Linked DNA regions of Homo sapiens: region 2 is linked to region 1. A link means that fine-mapping ties the variant in region 1 to the expression of a gene that starts in the linked region. Tissue or cell type: whole blood. Region 1 holds a variant in brackets; the other region holds the start of a gene. All regions are shown on one strand. Distances are from middle to middle.

The links. PIP is the estimated chance that this variant, and not a neighbour inherited with it, causes the effect.
Region 2: RNPEP starts here. The variant in region 1 is fine-mapped to the expression of RNPEP in whole blood (INTERVAL, PIP above 0.99).

What each region holds. Positions count from the first base shown.
Region 1 is chr1:201,696,477-201,704,770 of GRCh38, forward strand. The region is part of intron 5 of NAV1 (neuron navigator 1); the gene reads left to right. All of the region lies in intron 2 of IPO9-AS1 (IPO9 antisense RNA 1), which reads right to left. Among named protein-coding and RNA genes, the nearest start is that of MIR5191, 19 kb to the right of the region's middle. RefSeq lists an enhancer at 6,886-7,458. The variant C/A (reference allele first, on the strand shown) is at 3,446.
Region 2 is chr1:201,978,553-201,985,162 of GRCh38, forward strand. It overlaps RNPEP (arginyl aminopeptidase), which reads left to right and starts at 4,096. Exons shown (of 11, transcript NM_020216.4): 1 at 4,096-4,561. The coding sequence starts at 4,115. It overlaps SNORA70H (small nucleolar RNA, H/ACA box 70H), which reads left to right; the gene lies at 1-43. It also overlaps the pseudogene RPL10P4. RefSeq lists an enhancer at 3,732-3,791 and a silencer at 4,002-4,681.

The sequences.
Region 1 (8,294 bases):
GGACAGGAGCAGTGACTGCCAGTGAGGCCTGGACTGGCTGGCAGCCCGATGTCTTGGAGGTGGAGAAATGCTTGGCCTGGCTGGTGGCCCATGACTCCCTGTCTTCTGGCAGTTCTGTATCTCATTCATTGCCTGCAGTGGAGGACAGGCTTCATTCTGTGAGCTGTGAGGAGCGTGATTCCAGCATGAGTCAGGAAGGGCCTCCTGGCGTCCGCCTCTGTTGTCTTTTTGGTCATGTATCATTCATTTTGGAAAAAGCACGGACTTCAGAGAAGACTGGGATTCAGATCCCTACCCTACAAGCCGTGTGACCTTAGGAAGTTAACTGACCTCTCTGAGCCAAACATCTATAAAATCGGAGTACTCATACTTACCTCAGCCGCTGCATTGCAAGGACAGAATACATATTCGTGTTTCGCACCATGCCTGGCGCACACTCGGGAAATACTGTCTTTTTTCCTTTTCCTTCCCTTCTTGCCTCAGAACATTGCCTGCTTTTCTCACCTTCTGATGCTCACTAAACAAAAAATTTTTTTAAATGCAAAAACTCTTCAGCACATCTTATTAAGTCTCACTGTAGGAATTCTCTGCCTTCTTAATTGGAAGTCTCCCTTAAAGCTAACCTAGCTCCTTCTTGTTTCAATTGATACCCAAGCCCTGGAGGGAGTTCCGGGGCCTTAGTCTAAGCCGAGTCCTTTTGGTGAGCAGTGGAACCATCCTGGAAATGGGGGGGCATGTTGGTGGCAGATGGGCCGAGTCACAGGGTCCCCAGTGGTGGGCAGTAGAGGGGTGAAGGGATCAGTGACACAGCAGGCTTTTCCAGAAATAAGAACCCTCCAGGGAGGCAGCCAGGCAGGGTGGATGTCAGCTTTTTGATGGAGGAGCAGATGCTGTGCAGGCTGAAGTGGGGCAGGGGAAGAGGGAGGTGTGAACGGCAGAGGGAGCATCGCCTTCTGGGCAGCCCTACCTTGCTCATACCTTGCCCCCAGCTTTCTCTCTCATAATCCTCCTCAAAGCTCAACCTTTTCCTCTTTATCCTCAAGCCTGGCTCTGAGATCAGCAGGCTGTGTCGTCTTGAGCAAGTCACTGCTATTCCAGTGCGCCTCAGTCTCCTCATCTGTGAAATGACCTCTGAGGCTTGTGCCAGCTCTGACTTTTGATGAGTTTTAACATTCAGCCTCTTCTGGGCTTGCAGCAGGGCTGTCTATACTGGTCCATACACAGGCTGGCCAGACCTTATGCCAGCAGCCCAGTCACCCTGCCATATCTGCTTTGTCTCCCATTCCATCCCATTCCCATCCCCAAACCACACCTCTTCTCCTACGGTGTCACTTTAAAACAATGTGTGGAGCACCCACTGTGTTTGAGGTGTCAGAATGGGATTTGGAATGAATATGCCAGGTCTCTGCCCTTCAGGAGGAGAAAGACATGAAATCTAAACAACAGCTCAGCTGTTATTTCATTTTATAGGTGAGAGAACTGAGGCCCAGACATTGAATACCTTGCCCAAGGTCACAGGGCATTGAATACCTTGCCCAAGGTCACAGTGGTAAAGCTGGGATTTGACAAAGACTCTCTAGCTCCGTGTCCTGTGGCCTCTCGTCGTCTGATGCCCAGAGCCAGTCCTTCCTCTCTTGTGGCTCAGCCTTTGCATAGGCTGTATCCTTCCTGAACCTGAGACTTGCCCTGTTGCCTGTGGTCAGATTCATTCTTTCCCTTCCTTTGGTTTCAGATCAGTGGTCACCTCTTCCAGGACCTCCCCTGTGACTCCTCTAACCCACCCACCTTATCACTTTTCTAGTCAGTCCCCAACAGAAGCTCTGGCCCCCATGCACGGATGATGCCTGACCACAGCTGCACATGCCAACCTCTTGGCTGCAAGCTCCCTGAGGGCAGCCCCTATTGTATGGGTGGACTCAGAACCCTCAAGACAGTGGCTAAGTGGAAGCCAGTGGCTGCTGGTCAGGGCACAGCCCGGCATGATCTGGTGGATAATCAGTGCTTCAGAGGCGGTGATGTTCACTCATTTGATGTGTCTCCCATTTGAAATGCAGCCACTTCCAAGGGAATCACGTGGGATTCACATCCTACATAGAAGACTGCAAAGGCCTGGTTTGGAGAACTCAGGAAAGGTCTGTAGCCAGGAGACCTGACCCCTTGAGTTCTGGTGCAGGCAGGAGTGTGATAGGCAGAACTACTCCCATCACAACAGTGGCATCTTCAGATAAGGTGCCTTTTGTCACTTGGCCACTGGTAGGTTCTGCGAAAGGAAGTGATGTCAGGGATTTAGGGACAGGCCTGGGGGTGGAGGGCTGCACAGGAGTGGGAGTGGGCAGGTGGGTGAAGTCAAATGACAAAAGCCTGCCCTTACCTTTGCTACTGGTTCTCTTCTGCCGCTAACTCAAATATATATCATCTGGCAAGTCTCTGTCTAACTCATTCTGGGCCTCAGTGGCAGGGCCCCAGAAACCTGAAGACGGGCCCGCTCTGTAAAATGAACTTGAAAGTGCGCCAAAGGCAAACACTTTATAGAAGAAGAGCCAGTGATGGCACAAGACAGGGATGCCCTCTCTCACCGCTCCTATTCAACATAGTGTTGGAAGTTCTGGCCAGGGCAATCAGGCAAGAGAAATAAATAAAGGGTATTCAATTAGGAAAAGAGGAAGTCAAATTGCCCCTGTTTGCAGATGACATGATTGTATATTTAGAAAACCCCATCATCTCAGCCCAAAATCTCCTTAAGCTGATAAGCAACTTCAGCAAAGTCTCAGGATACAAAATCAATGTGCAAAAATCACAAGCATTCCTATACACCAATAACAGACAAACAGAGAGCCAAATCATGAGTGAACTCCCATTCACAATTGCTTCAAAGAGAATAAAATACCTAGGAATCCAACTTACAAGGGATGTGAAGGACCTCTTCAAGGAGAACTACAAACCACTGCTCAATGAAATAAAAGAGGATACAAACAAATGGAAGAACATTCCATGCTCATGGATAGGAAGAATCAATATCCTGAAAATGGCCATACTGCCCAAGGTAATTTATAGATTCAATGCCATCCCCACCAAGCTACCAATGACTTTCTTCGCAGAATTGGAAAAAACTACTTTAAAGTTCATATAGAACCAAAAAAGAGCCCACATTGCCAAGACAATCCTAAGCCAAAAGAACAAAGCTGGAGGCATCATGCTACCTGACTTCAAACCATACTACAAGGCTACAGTAACCAAAACAGCATGGTGCTGGTACCAAAACAGAGATGTAGACCAATGGAACAGAACAGAGGCCTCAAAAATAACACCACACATCTACAACCACCTGATCTTTGACAAATGTGACAAAAACAAGAAATGGGGAAAGGATTCCCTGTGTAATAAATGATGCTGGGAAAACTGGCTAGCCATATGTAGAAAGCTGAAACTGGATCCCTTCCTTACA[C/A]CTTATACAAAAATTAATTCAAGATGGATTAAAGACTTACATGTTAGACCTAAAACCATAAAAACCCTAGAAGAAAACCTAGGCAATACCATTCAGGACATAGGCATGGGCAAGAACTTCATGACTAAAACACCAAAAGCAATGGCAACAAAAGCCAAAATAGACAAATGGGATCTAATTAAGCTAAAGAGCTTCTGCACAGCAAAAGAAACCACCATCAGAGTGAACAGGCAACCTACAGAAAGGGAGAAAATTTTTGCAATCTACCCATCTGACAAAGGGCTAATATCCAGAATCTACAAAGAATTTAAATTTACAAGAATAAACAAACAACCCCATCAAAAGTGGGCAAAGGATATGAACAGACACTTCTCGAAAGAAGACATTTATGCACCCAACAGACACATGAAAAAATGCTCATCATCACTGGGTCATCAGAGAAATGCAAATCAAAACCACAACGAGATACCATCTCACGGCAGTTAGAATGGCGATCATTAAAAAGTCAGGAAACAACAGGTGCTGGAGAGGATGTGGAGAAATAGGAACGCTTTTACACTGTTGGTGGGAGTGTAAACTAGTTCAGCCATTGTGGAAGATAGTGTGGCAATTCCAAGGATCTAGAACGAGAAATACCATTTGACCCAGCGATTCCATTACTAAGTATATACCCAAAGGATTATAAATCATGCTACTATAAAGACACATGCACACATATGTTTATTGTGGCACTATTCACAATAGCAAAGACTTGGAACCAACCCAAATGTCCATCAATGATAGACTGGATTAAGAAAATGTAGCACATTGCCGGGCGCAATGGCTCACGCCTGTAATCCCAGCACTTTGGGAGGCCGAGGCGGGTGGATCACGAGGTCAGGAGATCGAGACCATCCTGGCTAACATGGTGAAACCCCGTCTCTAATAAAAATACAAAAAATTAGCCAGGCGTGGTGGCAGGCGCCTGTAGTCCCAGCTACTCGGGAGGCTGAGGCAGGAGAATGATGTGAACCCGGGAGGCAGAGCTTGTAGTGAGCCGAGATCCTGCCACTGCACTCCAGCCTGGGGACAGAGTGAGACTCTGTCTCAAAAAAAAAAAAAAAAAAAAAAAGAAAGAAAAGAAAATGTGGCACTTGTACACCATGGAATACTATGCAGCCATAAAAAAGGATGAGTTCATGTCCTTTGCAGGGTCATGGATGAAGCTGGAAACCATCATTCTGAGCAAACTATCACAAGGACAGAAAACCAAACACTGCATGTTCTCACTCATAGGTGGGAATTGAACAATGAGAACACTTGGACACAGGGTGGGGAACATCACACATGGGGGCCTGTTGTGGGGGTGGGGAGCTGGGGGAGGGATAGCATTAGGAGAAATACCTAATGTAAATGACAAGTTAATGGGTGCAACAAACCAACATAGCACATGTATACCTATGTAACAAACCTGCACATTGTGCACATGTACCCTAGAACTTAAAGTATAATAAAAAAAATAAAAAAAGAAAAAGAAAAAGAGCCAGTAATATTAGCACAGACCAACTCCAGTGGCTCTAAGAGTGCTCCAAGGTGGTGGAAACTTCTATATCTGTGCTGCAGTAGCTACGAGCTGGTGTAATGATGTGGCTATTGAACACTTGAAATGTGGCTAGTGCAACCCAACAACTGAATTTGAAACTTCATTAATTTTAGTTAACTTAAATCTAAAAGATGCTCAATATCATTAGGCACTAGGGAAATGTAGATGACACCTACAGTGAGATACCACTTCATACCCACTGGATGGCTATCAAAAAGAGACAATGACAAGTGTCAGTGAAGATATGGAGAAATTGGAACTCTCATATACTGCTGATGGGAATGAGAAATGGAGCAGCCACTTTGGAAAACAGTCTGGCAGTTCCTCAAAATGTTAACTATAAAATTACCATGGGACCCAGTATTGTACTCATAGGCATACATTCAAAAGAAATGAAAACATGCATCCATATAAAGGCATGGACGTGAATTTCATAGCAGCATTATTCATACTAGGCCAAAAGTTGAGATGACCCAAATGCCTATGAAATGAATAGATAAACTAAATGTGGTATATCCATACAATGGAATATCATTCAGCCCTGAAGAGGAATGAAGTAGTGATGCTTGCTACAACATGGAGGAACCTTGAGAACGTTGTGCTAAGTGGAAGAAGCCAGATGCAAAAGGCCACATATTGCATGATTACATTTCTATGAAATGTCTAGAATAGGCAAACTCACAGAGACAGAAAGTAGATTGGTGGTTGCCAGGAGTTGGAGCAAGGGGAGAACAGGGAGTGACTGCTAATGGCCACAGGGCTTCTTATTGGAATGATAAAAATAGTCTGGATTAGATAGTGATGATGGTTGTACAACTGTGCAAATATACTAAAAACAATTGAACTGTACATTTTATTTGTTTTTTTTATTATTATTTTTGAGATGGAGTTTCACTCTTGTTGCCCAGGCTGGAGTGCAATGGTGCGATCTCAGCTCACTGCAACCCCTGCCTCCCAGGTTCAAGCGATTTTCCTGCCTCAGCCTCCCAAGTAGGTAGCTGGGGTTACAGGAGTGCACCACCATGCCAAGCTCATTTTGTATTTTTAGTAGAGATGGGGTTTCATCATGTTGGTCAGGCTGGTCTTGAATTCCTGACCTCAAGTGATCCACCAGCGTCGGCTCCCAAATGAACTGTACATTTTAAAAGGGTGAATTTTGGTATGTGAATTCTCTCTCTCTCTCTCTCTCTCTCTCTCTCTCTCTCTCTCTCTCTCTCTCTCTCTCTCTCCCCATTCTGACTAGTGGCGACAATATTGGACTATGCGCTCTAGAGTCAGACTATCTGGATTTGAATTCTGGCTTTGCCATTTGCTGTTATATGTCCTTGGACAGCTTACTCAACCTCCCCAGGCTTCCGTTTTTCTCAACTGTAAAATGGGGATAATAACTGGGCTCTCTCAAAGAGTTGTCCTGAAGATTAAATGGGCTAATATACATAAAGCTGCTAGAATAGTGCCTGGTACCCAGCCCTGTAGAAGAGTTAGCCAATACTAATCTTACTAGTGTCACAACCAGAAATCCCCCAGGGCCTCCTCCAATTGTCATCCACACCTGGACTCAGCCCCTCCCCACTCCCGTCCCCATTTGCCTGCAGATGGTTCTCTCTGCTGTGTAAACTGTTGCCATAACAACCACTCCCAGCTCCCAGCAGCAGTGACTTCTTTGGAGCAGGGTGTCACATGAAGGGTCTGGGCAGGATCACTAATGGAAAACATTTTCAGTAAACCTTGAGGTTCACTGGGCAGGAAAGTCAAGGCCTGTTGGGGAACAGAGGGCCACGTCTCCAGGCTGAGACAGGCAGGCCACCTTCTGCAGGAGGCCAGCCCTCTGAGCCCAGCCCGGAAGTCCAAGTCTTTAAATGAGAGAAGACAGAATATGTTCGAGAGTCTGCTATCTGATCCTATAACCTATCATTCTGATCCTATAATCTAACATTCACAAGGAAATGGGGCAGGGAGGTGTTTCTCCTGAGGTGGAGAAGTCAGGATAGCAAACTAGCACTCCTTCCAAACAGGGCTCGAGGCCAGGCACCCTCTCCTGGTCCCACAGTCCTCCGCATGGACCACCCTTGACCTTGGCAAGTCCTTTCCTAACGTGATCTTGTTGCTAAATATTAGTGGCTGTGGAGGTATTGCTTTCTCCTGGAACTTTAAGCTCGTCTCCCCGGCCCAAGTTTGCTGCCAAAGGCTGCACTTTTGCACACGGCTGAGCAGGGCTGAGCTGTCCTGTGACAGGCTGTGGCCTGAACTAGCCATCCGCGTGGGGCTGCCCTGTGGTCACTGCCTGCCCTCAGCTCGCTGCAGAGAGAGGCTGCCACTCCCCAGAAAGGGTCAGCCTGGGTGTGGTGGAGGGGGTGGGGTGACTGTCCTCCCAGCTCATCAGGCAGCTCCCAGCCTCAAGAACACTGCGGAGGAGCAGAGGTGAGGCCTCAGAGCACAGATCTGAACCCTGATCTATTTAATATTTCCCCAGGGGACTGGAGCAGAAAGGCCAGCTGGAGCCTCTTGGAAACTTTGGCCCTGAATCAGAGCTTGCCAAGTGGGGCTTGTGGGTCCCCAGAACCTCCCTGGTGCCGAAGGCTGGTTGGTTAATCCCAGAAGCCAGGCCCTGCTCCCTCTCCCCAAGAACCGGGTGGGCTCCCCGTCATAGATACTGCAAACTCAGGCTGTTCTCCCAGCCTGGCCACGAGGCCTAGGGTTGCGGGAAAGATGTCAGCCCTAGGAGTGCAGAGTCCTGGGAGGAAAGGAGCTGTGCTAAGCAGGAGACTGAGGGAGAGAGACCTGGGCGGTGGCTCCCGAGCCTGAGCGAGACGCTGTCCACCTCGCTGCGCTGCAGTCGCAGCAAGGCCACAGCCGGCTGAGGACCGGCAACGCCCCCTTGTGGCCATTCTCAGCAACAAGCCCCCAGAGAGCCTGGCGGGGGCTGGACTGGGGCTGGGTTCTCTTGCTGCAAGGCTGAGGTGGCTAGGTGACTTCTCTTATCCCAAGCCTGGAGATGAAGGAGGCGGCTTTTCCTGAGAACAGACTTGTGCCTGAAGAGTAGATTTGTTCTGAAGGCCAGGGACACTTTGCGTAGCCACTTGGCATCAGGAAGTCAAGCCCTGGTTTTGTAATGGACATCCAATACTGGTGGTATGCAATGAGATGTAAGGATTTTCCAAAATGTGGCCTTATGTAGCACACCCTCCACTGTGGGGGTTTGCAAAGATGAGGCCCCATCTCCATCCTGTTGAATCAGAAGCTCTGGGGGGTGACACCCTGGTATCT
Region 2 (6,610 bases), 280 kb after region 1:
CTGTTTGTTGTATGGGTTGCTCTAAGGGACCTTGGAGACAGTCCTTTCAGATGGATGTTCATGTTTCTGACCTTACACTACCCCAATGTAGGCTCCAAACTGGCATGCGAGGTGCCTTTGGAAAGCCCCAGGGCACTGTGGCCAGGGTTCACATTGGCCAAGTTATGTCCATCCACACCAAGCTGCAGAACAAGGAGCATGTGATTGAGGCCCTGCGCAGGGCCAAGTTCAAGTTTTCTGGCCGCCAGAAGATCCACATCTCAAAGAAATGGGGCTTCACCAAGTTCAATGCCAATTAATTTGAAGACATGGTGGCTGAGAAGCGGCTCATCCCAGATGGGTCAAGTACATTCCCAATCATGGCCCTCTGGACAAGTGGCGGGTCCTGCACTCATGAGGGCTTCCACTGTGCTGCCCCCTCTTAATACTCACCAATAAATTCTACTTTCTGTCCACCTAAAAAAAAAAATGCTTTAACTTCAGTTACCCCTCTCTCTTATGTACTTTTAGTCTGTTATTTTAGTTTTATCCTGATTCCCTCACATAAACATTATTAGTATATTATTAGTGTTGTTTTATACAGTTGTTTAAATTTATCTACTTTTTTTGCTCACTGTTCCTTTTTGCATCTCATTCTTTCCTTCAGTGATTCCTTTCCTTCTTGAAATAATTCCTGGCCTGGCACAGTGGCTCACGCCTGTAATCCCAGCACTTTGGGAGGCCGAGGCAGGCGGATCACCTGAGGTCAGGAATTCGAGACCAGCCTGGCCAACATGGTGAAACCCCGTCTCTACTTAAAATACAAAAATTAGCCAGGCATGGTGGCAGGCGCCTGTAATCCCAGCTACTCAGGAGGCTGGGGCAGGAGAATTGCTTGAACCCGGGAGGCGGGGGTTGCAGTGAGCTGAGATCGCACCATTGCACTCCAGCCTGGGGGACAAGAGCGAGACTTCATCTCAAAAAAAAAAAAAAAAAGAATTCCTTTAGAATTTCTTCGTTAGGAGTCTATGGATGGTAAATACTCTCAATTTTTATCTAAAAATCTGTTTTCCCTTACTTTTTAACAGTAGTTCATTTTTAATTTTATTTATTTTTATAAAGACAGGGTCTCCCTGTGTTGCCCAGGCTGGTCTGGAACTCCTTGGCTAAAGAGATCTTCCTGCCTCAGCCTCCTAAAGTGCTGGGATTATAGGCTTGAGCCACTGCACATGACCAAATAATAGTTTAGTTGGGTATACAATTCCAATTTGACAGTTGGCTTTTTTTTCTCAGTATTTTGAAGATAATGTCTCCAGCTTGTATGTTGCTAATGAGAGGTCTGCCCTTGGTCCAATTTCTTATTTTGAGACGGAGTTTTGCTCTTGTTGCCGAAGCTGGAGTGCAATGGCGTGATCTCGGCTCACCACAACCTCCGCCTCCCAGGTTCAAGTGATTCTCCTGCCTCAGCTTCCGGAGTACCTGGGATTAAAGGCATGCGCCACCATGCCTGGCTAATTTTGTATTTTCAGTAGAGACAGGGTTTCTCCATGTTGGTCAGGCTGGTCTCGAACTCCCAACCTCAGGTGATCCGCCCGCCTTGGCCTCCCAAAGTGCTGGGATTATAGGTGTGAGCCAACATACCTGGCACCTTGGTCCAATTTCTAATTGCCATTCTTTTGTAGATAATCTGTCTCTTTTCTTCCACTGCTGTAAGATCTTTATGTCTTGGTTTTCTTCAATTTAACTAAAACATGTCTATAGGTAGCTTTATTTTTATTTTTGCTAATAATTTATTGTAACTTTTTACTGTTTTTTTTTTTTTTTTTTGAGACAGGGTCTCACTCTGTCATGCAGGCTGGAGTGCAGTGGCGCAATGTTGGCTCACTCCAACCTCTGCCTCCTAGGCTCAAGCAATTCTCCTGCCTCAGCCTCCCGAGTAGCTGAGATTACAGGTGTGTGCCACTACTGCCCGGCTAATTTTTTGTATTTTTAGTAGAGATGGTGTTTCATAATGTTGGCCAGGCTGATCTTGAACTCCTGAGTTCAAATGATTCACCAGCCTCAGCCTCCCAAAGTGCTGGGATTACAGGCATAAGCCACTGCACTCGGCCCTGTAACTTTTAAATCTATAGAATCAGGAATGGAAAATTTGTGGCCATTATTTTGAAATGTCCAACATATGTTGCATTCTAAGCATTCACAAATAAATAATAAATAATGAAAATGAACTGGGGGAGAGGTGGGCTGTGCCCACAGTGTCCCCTTTCTACAATCCTGAATTCTCTGAATTCCTGAATCTCTCCACTGTAAGTTATTACAGGCCATCTACAGGCCAGTTCTGAGGCAAACTAGACAGTGTGGGAGCCATGCAGGGAGGCGGAAGTGGAAATGAGGTTCCTGGTATTCCCAGGAAGAAGTAAGGCTATAAGGGGAAATAATATAATTCCTAAAATCTTTTTTTTTTTTTTTTTTGAGACAGGGTCTTTCTCTGTTGCCCCAGCTGGAGTGCAGTGGTATGATCATGGTTCACTGCAGCCTTGACCTCCTGGGCCCAAGCAATACCCCTACCTCATCCTCTGAGTAGCCAGGACCACAGGTGTGCATCACCACACCCAGCTAATTTTTTAAAATGTTTTTGTAGAGAGGGGGTCTCCCTCTGTTGCGTAGCCTCATCTTGAACTCCTGGGCTCAAGCGATCCTCCTGCCTCAGCTTCCCAAAGTGTTGGGATTACAGGCGTGAGCCACCACACCCAGCCTAAAATCTTTTACCCTTTAGCTAAGGATGACATCCTCTTCCTCTGTCAATATTTAACTAGAAGGATCAGGCTAGGCATCTCTTCGTTGTGCTCCCCAGCATCCTTTTCTTCCCGTATCAAGCGCAGCACGTGGAAGTGTCGTGACCTGTTTTCTTGTGCGTCTGCTAAAATGTGAGTTAGGCTATGAACACCATAGGAAGAGGAATTGTGCCGGACTTATTCAAACTGTACCCCAGGCACTTAGCTTAACAACTGGTGTCTAGCAGATACTCAGCAAAAGTGCATTGCATCGAAGACTGAATAATTTCAAGATAGGAGTATTCAACGTCTAATATGTACCAAGCGCTGTTCTCAATGCTACAGAAAAGCAGGTTTCTAAGGTTTCTGGAGTTAAACAAAAAACCCTGACATTGAACTTACATGGAATATTAAAGTCATTATCTACCATAAGCATTATTTCATGAAATAAAATAATTTCAACTCTACAAAACTAGGAAGCACAGAACGGAATACTATTTCCCTTAATGAAAAACTCCCTACATTGTTCTTTTTAAAAATCTCATTTCCTAGCTGAACGGTAAAAACATCATCATTGATTAGCTCCTATTCATAGAAGGCCCATTGCAACCCACTGGTACAGAAGAGAAACAAAGTATTCAGCGGAGAATACCCTAGCTCAATAAGCGGTACAATACAGTAAGGGAAATAGAAGTGACATGCGATGGACAGCCAGGCCTTAAATTGCGCGGTGCTGATTCCTGTCCCTTAACCCAACAATAGAAAGATAGGCGTGCCTGGAGTTGCTGGGGGACGAGGCTCGATCCAGTGTGAATTCCGTGAAGTTGTGCAGGGTTTCACTGTTTGCTGAGTGTGTTAGACAGGTTACCTGGTAGAGTTCTCACATTACTTCGTGAGATACACAGATATTATGACTCTATTATACTGGTGCAGAAAAAGGCTCGGGAAGATTCATGTTTCTTGTGCGACTTGCCCAAGGTGACACACAGTTCTAACAACTGGCCTATCGCAGGGTGTGAGATCTGGAACTCAGACCTTCCCAGCCAGGGCTCAGTCCACGCCACTGCCTAGATGAGGCAGCAGGAAGGGTCAGCAGAGAAGGGTGCCCCACCGGGACGACTGGAACACCTCAGTAGGATATGGGTGGGCAAACGTGGGCCACACGATCCCACCGGCCTCTTTTGTCCTAAGTCCCGAGGCACGGGTGCAGCTAGAAGAGTGGGCGGTAAAGCGCAGGGAGGGGATGCGGTCGGGAGCAGATTTCGGGGGCGGGGCCCGCGCGGCGGGGGCGGGCCCGCGGCGCTCGGGGCGGGGCTCCCCTCGGGTTCGCGGCCCGGCCGGTGAGCAACGGCTCTGCGGCCATGGCGAGCGGCGAGCATTCCCCCGGCAGCGGCGCGGCCCGGCGGCCGCTGCACTCCGCGCAGGCTGTGGACGTGGCCTCGGCCTCCAACTTCCGGGCCTTTGAGCTGCTGCACTTGCACCTGGACCTGCGGGCTGAGTTCGGGCCTCCAGGGCCCGGCGCAGGGAGCCGGGGGCTGAGCGGCACCGCGGTCCTGGACCTGCGCTGCCTGGAGCCCGAGGGCGCCGCCGAGCTGCGGCTGGACTCGCACCCGTGCCTGGAGGTGACGGCGGCGGCGCTGCGGCGGGAGCGGCCCGGCTCGGAGGAGCCGCCTGCGGAGCCCGTGAGCTTCTACACGCAGCCCTTCTCGCACTATGGCCAGGCCCTGTGCGTGTCCTTCCCGCAGCCCTGCCGCGCCGCCGAGCGCCTCCAGGTGCTGCTCACCTACCGCGTCGGGGAGGGACCCGGGGTGAGTGCGCCCCAGACTGCGCCCGCCGCTGCCTGCCTGCCCTTCCGGCCCCCAGCCGCCCTGCACCCTCACCTACCCCACCCGGGAGGAGGGACAGGGAGGACCCTTCCAGAGCGTCCCTAGAGGGGCCTACTCCCCGCGCGCCGCCTCTAGGCCTCCTCCCCTTGCTTCCTCTTTTCCTCCCGGGCTGCCTGGTTTCCTTCTGGACTTCCTCCAGCCACTGGGCGGTGCATCCTTCACCCTTTCCGTCCTTCCGCGTCTCCTCCCTGGCCCTGGAGGCTTGTCCAGATTGCGCCGCATTCCCGCTCATCGCACACTGCCGTTTCTAACATTTTCCGTGGCTTTCTAGATGACCTGTTGTTCATGCACTTCACTTAGTGCCCTCTTGGACTTTTGGGCCGAGGTACCTGATTATCAGCCACCTTATCTCTGCTTTATGGTGGCTCTAGAATTAGCCAGATGTTGATCTAGCTCTTTGTTCTGTGTTGCCTTCTAGTTCCACGGTTAAAGCTCTTATCTTTGTTTTTGTTTCCTCCTGTGAAGTCCTGGATTTGATTAACGAAAGAATTTGAGTAAAAGTGAGAACTGGAATTAGGGTGCTATAAGCATTATAATAATTTGGCCTTCTCACTGTTGGTTAACTCTTTAATTTTTTTTCGGGACGGGGCAAATATTGGAAATAAGAGGATGGAGTTATGTGGCTTATGTCTGTAAGAGTCAGAAAATCCTTCCTGGAGAGTCCTTAGGCTGTGGCTGCCAGTTATCTCTCAGGTAGAGTTGGTTGCAAGTTTCATAGTAAACTGCTTGCTTACAGTTTAATCTTTTATTTATTTATTTGAGGCAGAGTCTCACTCTCGTCCAGGCTGGAGTGCAGTGGCAAGATCTCGGCTCACTGCAACCTCTGCGTCGTGGGTTCGAGCGATTCTCGTACCTCACCCTCCCTAGTAGCTGGGACTACAGGCGTGCGCCACCACACCCGGCTAATTTTTGTATTGTTTAGTAGAGACAAAATTTCACCATTTTGGTCAGGCTGGTCTCGAACTCCTGACCTCGTGATCCGCCTGCCTCGGCGGCCTCCCAAAGTGCTGGGATTACAGGCGTGAGCCACTGCGCCCGGCCCACAGCTTGGTTTTATACATTAGGGAGACATGATACATCAGTCAGTATATGTAAGAAGTACATTGGTTGGGTCTGAAAAGGTGGGACAACTTGCAGCAAAGGCAGGAAGACTTGAAGCGGCTTCCGGATCACAGATAGGTGATACACAAATGGTTACATTCTTTTGAGTTTCTGATGAGCCTTTCCAAAGGAAGCAAATCAGATATGCATCCATCTCAGTGAGCAGAGTAGTGGCTTTGAATAGAATGGGAGGCAGGTGTGCCCTAAGCGGTTCCCAGGTTGAGTTTTCTTTAGTGATTTTGGGGGCCCAAGAGATTTTCCTTTCACAGCCTGATAACACCACTGCACTCCAGCCTGAGCAACAGAGTGCGACCCTGTTTTAACAACAACAACAAAAAAGCAAAGATGATGAGTAAGCAATTTTGGTGGAGGGGGGATGATGGCTAATATTTAATAAGATGAGCCAGGCACTAGTCTAAGTGCTTGACATAGGTTAAATGAGTTGTCTTTCCATAAGTGGTTAATATGGTGCGTGGTACATGGTAAGTAAGCTGTGTTAGCTCTTACTGCTAACTTTTGTATTTCTTTCTTTTTTTTTTTTTTTTTTTTTTTTTTTTTTTTTTTTGAGAAGGGATCAAAAAGCTCCCTACATTGTTCTTTTTAAAAATCTCGTTTCCAGGCTGGGTGTGGTGGCTCACATCTGTAATCCCAGCACTTTGGGAGGCCAGGGCTGGCAGATCACCTGAGGTCAGGAGTTTGAGACCAGCCTGGCCAACATGGTGAAACCCTACCTCCACTAAAAATACAAAAATTAGCTGGTTGTGGTGGCTCACACCTGTAAACCCAGCTACCTGGGAGCCTGAGGCAGGAGGATCGCTTGAATCTGGGACACAGAGGTTGCAGTGAGCTGAGATCATGCCATTGCATTCC